Homo sapiens: one gene and its partner. The protein of the gene in region 2 interacts with the protein of the main gene of each other region in a biochemical or structural test. Each region holds a gene or a part of one and is shown on either strand. Other genes may lie near its edges.

Region 1 (3,817 bases), on a different chromosome or scaffold from region 2:
CAGTAAACCAATAGTCCCTGCTCTCATGGAGCTCACATTCTAGTAAGGAAGACAAAATACACTATGTTGGGTGGTTATGAAAAAGAATAAAGCACCATAAATGGCTGGAATGTGACTGTGAGGGAGAAGAGAAGGACTGCCATCTTAAAATAGTAGGCTCAGAGAAGGTCTCTCTGAGATCACATTTAAACAGAAACATAAAGGTGAAAATAAAGTTATTAAAGGAATTCTCAAATGGAATACAGTATCTACCAATTTAATTTTAATTTGATAGCATTATCAAAACTTTGAGGTAATAAATTCTTAGCCAAGTATTGTGTCAAAACAAGAATCAACTTGTTCCAAAAGCTGTTTAAGCTTTATTTTAGTAAATACACATCTAAATTCATGATATGTCTCTCAGTCTCAGTACCTTTACCTATAACATGGAGATACAATAAGTGCTATCTCAAAGGGATGCTGTGAGGACGAATGAAATAAAATGAGAAATGTAAGATGCCGGTGTTTTGCAAATGATAATCACTCAGTATATGGGAAGGTTTAGTGTAACTATGATTAAAATGGGCACTCAGGCCAGATGCAGTGGCTCAAGCCTGTAATCCCAGCATTTTACGAGGCCGAGGTGGGTAGATCGTTCGAGCCCAGAGGTTGAGACCAACCTGGGCAACATGGCGAAATTCCATCTCTATTTAAGAAAACAGAACAAAACAAAACAAAACAAAGGCACTCAACAAGTGGTGGTGGCAGTCATTATTATTATAGCTGTGTTCTGGGTGGTTTAAAAATCTCTAAAACCCTGACTTTCTTTAGATGCACAGAATACAATGAGACAAATGGTGTTTTATTCTGCTAAAATCCTCCTTACCTGTTGGAAGGAATCTTCAAACAATGTCTGCCGGGACACATTGATCTTTACATGACTAGGTAGTGCATTAGACTAAAAACAAAAATAATATCATAATATCATCTGAGTTATAGTATATGTATTGTATAAAGAGAAGACTAAATTATTGAGTATAAGATTTATTTACCACTATAGTACCTGGCACAAATAACGGAAGTGAGCAAGCTTCCACCTAAAGCCGCGTTCATAAGCAATTTGTGGACCACCTTTAGTTCTAAAGAAAAACAAAAATAAACCAAATTAACTCATAATAAAGTTGAATATTTAGTATTCAGTATAAAATCAGAGTGTACTAAAGTCCAACAAAATACCACAGGAAGATTTCTGCTGGGAGAGAAGGGTATACATACATGGTGGGCCAAAAGAAGCTCAAGTAATGGGGACTATTACAGCAACAGGACACACATATACACAAAGAAGGACATTGTATTTATGGCTGGATCTTTTGTTAGTGAGTTAAATGAAATATCAAAGTCTACTACAGACTATTTCAAAGAAAATCTTCGATAATCCTTAAATCTAAGGAGGACAGAGGCTCCAGACAGAAGAGACGTGGAAGGAAATTCTACCACATCCTAAGCCTAACCTAAAACCCAAACAAATATTCCTGGAGATAATAAGCAAAGCAAAATCAAATTCCTAGAAACAACATTGTCATCCAGATCACACGGTTCACGTGGTCAGTGAGAGAAAAGGCAGAGTTGGTGGCACGGCACCTAGGAATACAGGTTTTACAATATGGTTTGACTCACAGTGACAGAGCCTGGATCTCTTGCCTATTGATTGAGGGCCTGACAGGCACAAAGAACTTTCATAATGTTAAGGAACACTTTGGAACAGATGAAAAATGTTCTCTTGTGTTGTCAGGTTCAAGTGAATTCACTTACTCAAAAAGCATTTACTGAATGCATAGCTGGTACCTGGCTTTCTTCTAGACAGTGACAGCATTACTTATTAATAGGTAAAAATGCCTGTTTTGTGGAGCTTATATACTAGTGAAGGAGATAAGACAAAAAAATATAATAAATAAGTAAAGTACAAATGTCTTATCACTCCTGACCTAGAACAATAAAACAATAAAAAAGGCATTGTTAAAAGGACAAAGTATAAGGAGTGATATGAGAAGCATTTTGTGATTTTCAAAAGGGTAAAAGGAGTAGAGCTCACAGACAAAGTGACATTTGAGCAAAAACATGAAGGAGAGGGCAAAAGCCATATGGAGTTTCGGGAAAAGAGCATACCAGGCAGACGGAATAAAGGCTAAGACCCAAGGTGGAAGCTGAAGGTGTTGAAGGCACAGCTAGCGTCCAATGAAGCTAGAACACGGTGAATGAGGAGGAGCGAAAACCAAGAGGAGGTTGAAGAGATAAGAGGGGTCAGATCCTGTAAGGCCATTTAGGCTGTTGTAAAGTGTGCTTTTTACTCTTATTGAGATGGAAACCACTGAAGGGTTTTGTGCAAATAAATGACTTTTAATTAAATTTTGTTTTGGAAATTCAGTCTCTGTGCTGTATGGAGAGTAACAACATTGTACAAGGTGTGGGAAGAAAGCAGAGAGAGGACTCTGCTACCAAGCCAGGCAACAGATAATGGTAGCTTGGACCAAAATGGTGGCAATGGGGGTGGTGAGGCATAGCTGGATTCTAGATATGTTTTGAAGTTGAGGTAACTAGAATTCTTGATGGACTGTTTGTAAGGTAGGAGAGATAGAGGAGTTGTGGATGATTCTACATTTTTTTTTTTTCCTAAGATGGAGTTTCGCTCTTGTTGCCTAGGCTGGAGTGCAATGGTGCAATCTCGGCTCACTGCAACCTCTGCCTCCTGGGTTCAAGCGATTCTCCTGCCTCAGCCTCCTGAGTAGCTGGGATTACAGGCACACGCCATCACGCCCAGCTAATTTTACCATGTTGGCCAGGCTGGTCTCGAACTCCTGACCTCAGGTGATCTGCCCGCCTCGGCCTCCCAAACTGCTGGGATTATAGGCGTGAGCCACCATAACAAGGTGATTTCAAAATTTTTGACCCAAGCACCTGCTAGAGTGGAGTTATCAACTGTGACAGGGAATATCACAGGTAGAGCTGGGTTTTTGTTGTTGTTGTTATAATTTTTTTTTTTTTAGAGACTAGCTCTTGCTATGTTGCCCAGGCTGGTCTCAAACTCCTGGGCTCAAGTGATCTACCCGCCTCAACCTCCCAGAGTGCTGGGATTATAGGTGTGTGCCACCATGCCTGGCCAGAGAGCAGGTTTTACAGGACCTACCAAGAAGGAGTTACAAGTGGAGATGTCAATAAGCAGCTGAATATAGAAAGCAAAATTTCAAGTGAGAAGTCTGAGCTAAATTTGTGAGTCATTAGCAGGCACATGTTTTAAAAGCATAATACTGAGTAAGATGCATCAAGAGAATGAATGTAGTTAACAAAAAAAAAAAAAAAAAAAGAGGCTTAGGAAAAAAAGGAGGACTCGACAAAATAAAGATAGAAGAACAGAAACGCAGAGGGAAATCAAGAAAGTATGGCTCACAGCACTACTTTTGCCAGGAGAGAGAAATGTATTGTGTCAAATGTTCCTGGTAAGTCAAATCAGGCAGGACTGCAAACCAACGCCTGGATTAACAATGTGAAGATCATTGGTGCCCTTGCAAATTCAGTGTCAGGGGAACTTCCTTGGAGTTGGTTTAAAGGAGAAACTATGAACAGCAATACAGAGACAACCATGCAAGTAGCTTTCCTGTAAAGGGGAGCAATAAAAATGAACTGTGGGCTGGGTGTGATGGCTCACGCCTGTAATCCCAGCACTTTGGGAGGCCAAAGCAGGTGGATCGCCTGAGGTCAGGAGTCCGAGACCAGCCTGGCCAACATGGCGAAACCCCATCTCTACTGAAAATACAAAAATTAGCTGGGTGTGGTGGCGGGT
Region 2 (3,817 bases):
CTTTCCCCAGGCGAGAAACAAGGGGTTGGAGTTCATCTGAGAGCCCCGCCAACTCTCCCACTTCCCCTAACGTGTGGTTTCCAGTGCCCTGTGGTTTCACAGGCTCAGTGTGACTTGCTGGGATGATGGCAAGTGATCAGTGGTGGAAGTTCAGGCATAGAACAGAGAGGTACAAGACCAGGTGTGGTGGCTCACGCCTGTAATCCCAGCACTTTGGGAGATCAAGGCAAGCAGATCACTGGAGATCAGGAGTTCGAGACCAGCCAGACCAACATGGTGAAACCCTATCTCTACTAAAAATAAAAAAAAAATTAGCTGGACGTGGTGGCGCAAGCATGTAATCCCAGCTACACGGGAGGCTAAGGCAGAATTGCTTAAACCCAGGACACGGAGTTTGCAGTGAGCCAAGACTGTGCCACTGCACTTCAGCCTGAGTGACAGAGTGAGACTCTATGTCTCAAAAAAAAAAAAAAAAAAAGAGAAATACAGAAGGAAAAGGGTCTTCCCACTTGCCCCTTTTCTCCTCACCATGTCTCAAAGCCCCAGGGGCCCATCTCCTGCCATCAGGCCCTCCCCCCAACCCCTTGCTGGGGAGGAAGCAGGGCTTGACAGACAGGTTCCGCCATCCAGGAAGTACAGACTCCCTGACCGCACTGAGGGCCTGGTGTGACAAACTCACACATGTCACCCTTCAGAAGTGCTTGAAAGACTCACGCTGTGGCTTTCTGTTCCCCAGGCCTAGCTCCCTTGTGTCTGGCCTGCGAGCACCCCCTTGAAGGACCCACGGCCTCCTCCCCTCTCCCAAGGGCCCAGCTAGGAGGTATGGGGAAAGGTTCCACACAAGGAAGCAGTTCCAGGAACTGGAAACGCCCGTCCTAGGGCAGCCCTGCCCACCAGCCCTGCCCCCACCCTGGCCAGCTCCCACGGATGTGGTAGGCAGGCAGCACCCGTTCTGCCTGAGCACACTCACCACACTCTCAGTGCCATGGGACTGGCCAGACCCACCCAGCCACACGTATAGCAGAGTGCAGGCCCTAGTTACCCAGAAACGGCTTCTTATGCACGTATACCATCACACACACATACCCGTGCTCATAGAATCTAAATATTCCTGCTTTAGCCAGTCACAAACTCACATGCCCCTCATCCCCTACCACTTACAGCTCAAACTCAATTCCATGTGAACCCAACCCATCCCAACACCCCTCCGTGTGTGTGCATGCCACAGGTTCATGCACACACAGCGGTATGCAGCCTCTGCAGCCTCCATCACTGCTGTTGGTCCTCCCTATCCCTTCCAACCCACTGAGGTCTAGCAGAAGAAGAAGGTGTGGGCAGGCACACTTGCCAAACCAAAGCCTGCAGTCCCAGAAATGCCCACCTATTCAAATATGCTGGGCCTGCCTCCTGGTGCCTTCCTTCCCATTGCTGTGGGTGCTCAGCCTCTAGCCATCTTTTCCCCTGCCCTGTCACAACCTGTCCCAAGTCAGCAGGCATCTGATGGAGGCCAGGCTCCAAGGGGCGAGGACAGTTGGTAGGGCAGAGGCAAGCCCTAAGGATCTGCTTGTCCGTTCCAAGGACGCCATGCAGGGCAGTGAATAGAAACCTGAACTCTGATTCTGGACACAACTAAATTCAGGTCCTAGCTCCACCCCTTATTTCCAGTGTGACCATGAGCAAGTTATTTCATCTGTGAGTTTCCATGGCCCCATTTCTAAAGTGCAGACATTAGCAGGAGCTGCTTCACAGTGCTGCAGGGAATCAGTGAAACAGTGCTTGGTGTCATCATCCCTAAAATCACCCCACTGCACACTGGTGGCCTGAAGGCTGTGCAGACCACTAACAGAGTCTCCCCAAGCCTTCAACCCGTAACTCAAAATCGGGGCTCCTGCCAGGTATCAATCCAATCTCCCTACCTACCACACCTTTGCACTCACTACACACCATCTCCCACCCCTCTACGCCTTTGAGATGCTACTACTCCTGCCTGGAAGGTACCCCTGGCCTTATTGCTGAAACCTTTCGAGATCCAGGTTTCCCTGACTCCAGGAGTTTGTCTTCCCTGAGGAAGACAGTTGATTCACACCATGGTCTGTCCCAGAGCCAGTGCCAGGGATACCTGGTGAGGAAATGGAGGAATCGAACCAAAGGTGTTAGGCTCTCCTCTTAGAACCCCTTGATTCTGCTGGGGGCAGACAGAAGGCAGATTTTGACAAAAAACAGAGTAACAAAATGCAAAGTGTTCTTCTGTGGACGAAACTAACCCCAGAGGAGGACTGGTTGGGAACGGTAATGCCCCGTTTATCAGGCTCCACCAAGAACAGGCTGCTCTGAATGAGGGTGGATATGGGAACGGTCCAGATAAATGGCGCTTGCCCTTCTGAGGGTCCAATCTTTCCTGACCCATTATGGGGTGAAAATGTGAAGAGATTTCACTTTGCTCTCCTGAGCAACCAGACCTACAAGCAGGGCTGCAGGGCAATGGTGTCTGCCCTTGGGGCTCTCTCCAGGGGCAAGGAGAGGTGTTTGTCCCTGTGCAGACTGGCTCCTGATGGCTAAATTTCTGCATTCCATAGTTCTAAGGTATTCCCCCAACCCTCTGTGGTTCAGAGGCTTGTCTTGTACAACTCTCCACACCTCTTTTGAAATTTGCCAAGAAGTCAGCAAATGGAATTTGTTTGAATTGTATACAAAGAAAGAGTAAATAGGTGCTAAGTAAGGCTTGAAACTACCTAAATAAGCTTGAAGATCTCTTGAGATGTTGGGGCAACTGACAAGAGGGCTGTGTGTAAGTGAGGTGTGACCAGAGCTCCACCCTGAGTTACGTCTCCTGCCTGTGGTCACACAGTCAAAGGGACCCAACCTTGTCCAGGGCTGGCTCCTGGACGCTGCCTAGCTGCTCTGTTACTCAGACCACTTTATGGGGTGGAGGAAGGGTGAGCAGCCAGCTCTCTGCATGTTCACCTTGGCCTAGACCCATCCTCTCCAGCCCACAGCAGCACTTCCTGGCCAAGCTGAGGCTGGGGAGTGGGTTTCTGCCTCTTGATGCCTGAGATTTCTGGGAAGAAGCCACGCCTGGTTTTCCAATTCCTACTGCTGGTTCCGGTGCTCTGTGCCCTCTCCTCCCTGGGGATTCGTATGGGGTTCCACGCTGACTCTTGGCCCAGGAAAGGCAGGGGGATGCTGGAGAATGAGAAGAACCCTACATGGGGAAAAGCTCTGGGGTCACATCCTCCCTAGAAGTGTCTGGGTGCACCTCAGGAAAGAAGAGTCTACTTATTATGCCCTGACAGGATCCCACAGGCCCAATCCCGCCGGCTCCCAGCAGCCTCCGCAACCCTGGGTCATGTGTGAGGTGAGACCTGGCACGTGCCTGTTCTGAACGCTCCCACCTCACATGCCCGTCCCAAGCTTAGGATTTAAACACTTGATGCTGCCACCACCCCACATCCATCCATCACCAGGTCCTCTCGATTCTGCCTCCGAGTCTGTCCTACTTCTCTACCCAGGCAGCCTGCCCTGGGTCTCATCTGGATTCTGCTCCCGACTCTTCCTATCCACCAAAGTCAGACCCCATTTCCCACAGTGAACCACCCCTCAGAATGCAGTCGGAGTCCTGCACACCAAATGTGCCAGGCTCGGCCATCCACCCGCTTCTCTGCTCCCTTCCCAGCCCAGTCTCTTCACCCAGCTGTGGAGTCTGGGTGGCGGCAAGCGTGTTGAGGAGGGAGGAGCGGTTCTGGTTAGTTCCTGGGGGGACTGCCATGGTGTCGGCCAGCCTAGAGCTGAGGGGCTACTACAGATCTCTGTCCAGGTG

What was found.
Region 1: the proteins of SLC2A1 (region 2) and WWP1 form a complex in vitro, tested with the Homo sapiens proteins (one study listed by BioGRID).

What each region holds. Positions count from the first base shown.
Region 1 is NC_000008.11:86,432,753-86,436,569, reverse strand, and holds part of WWP1 (NEDD4-like E3 ubiquitin-protein ligase WWP1), read right to left. Parts: intron 1,119-3,817; coding exon 1,043-1,118; coding exon of another isoform or gene 1,034-1,042; exon of another isoform or gene 1,032-1,033; intron 938-1,031; coding exon 866-937; intron 1-865. UniProt on the Homo sapiens protein: E3 ubiquitin-protein ligase which accepts ubiquitin from an E2 ubiquitin-conjugating enzyme in the form of a thioester and then directly transfers the ubiquitin to targeted substrates.
Region 2 is NC_000001.11:42,931,369-42,935,185, forward strand, and holds part of SLC2A1 (solute carrier family 2, facilitated glucose transporter member 1), read right to left. Parts: intron 1-3,817. UniProt on the Homo sapiens protein: Facilitative glucose transporter, which is responsible for constitutive or basal glucose uptake. Has a very broad substrate specificity; can transport a wide range of aldoses including both pentoses and hexoses.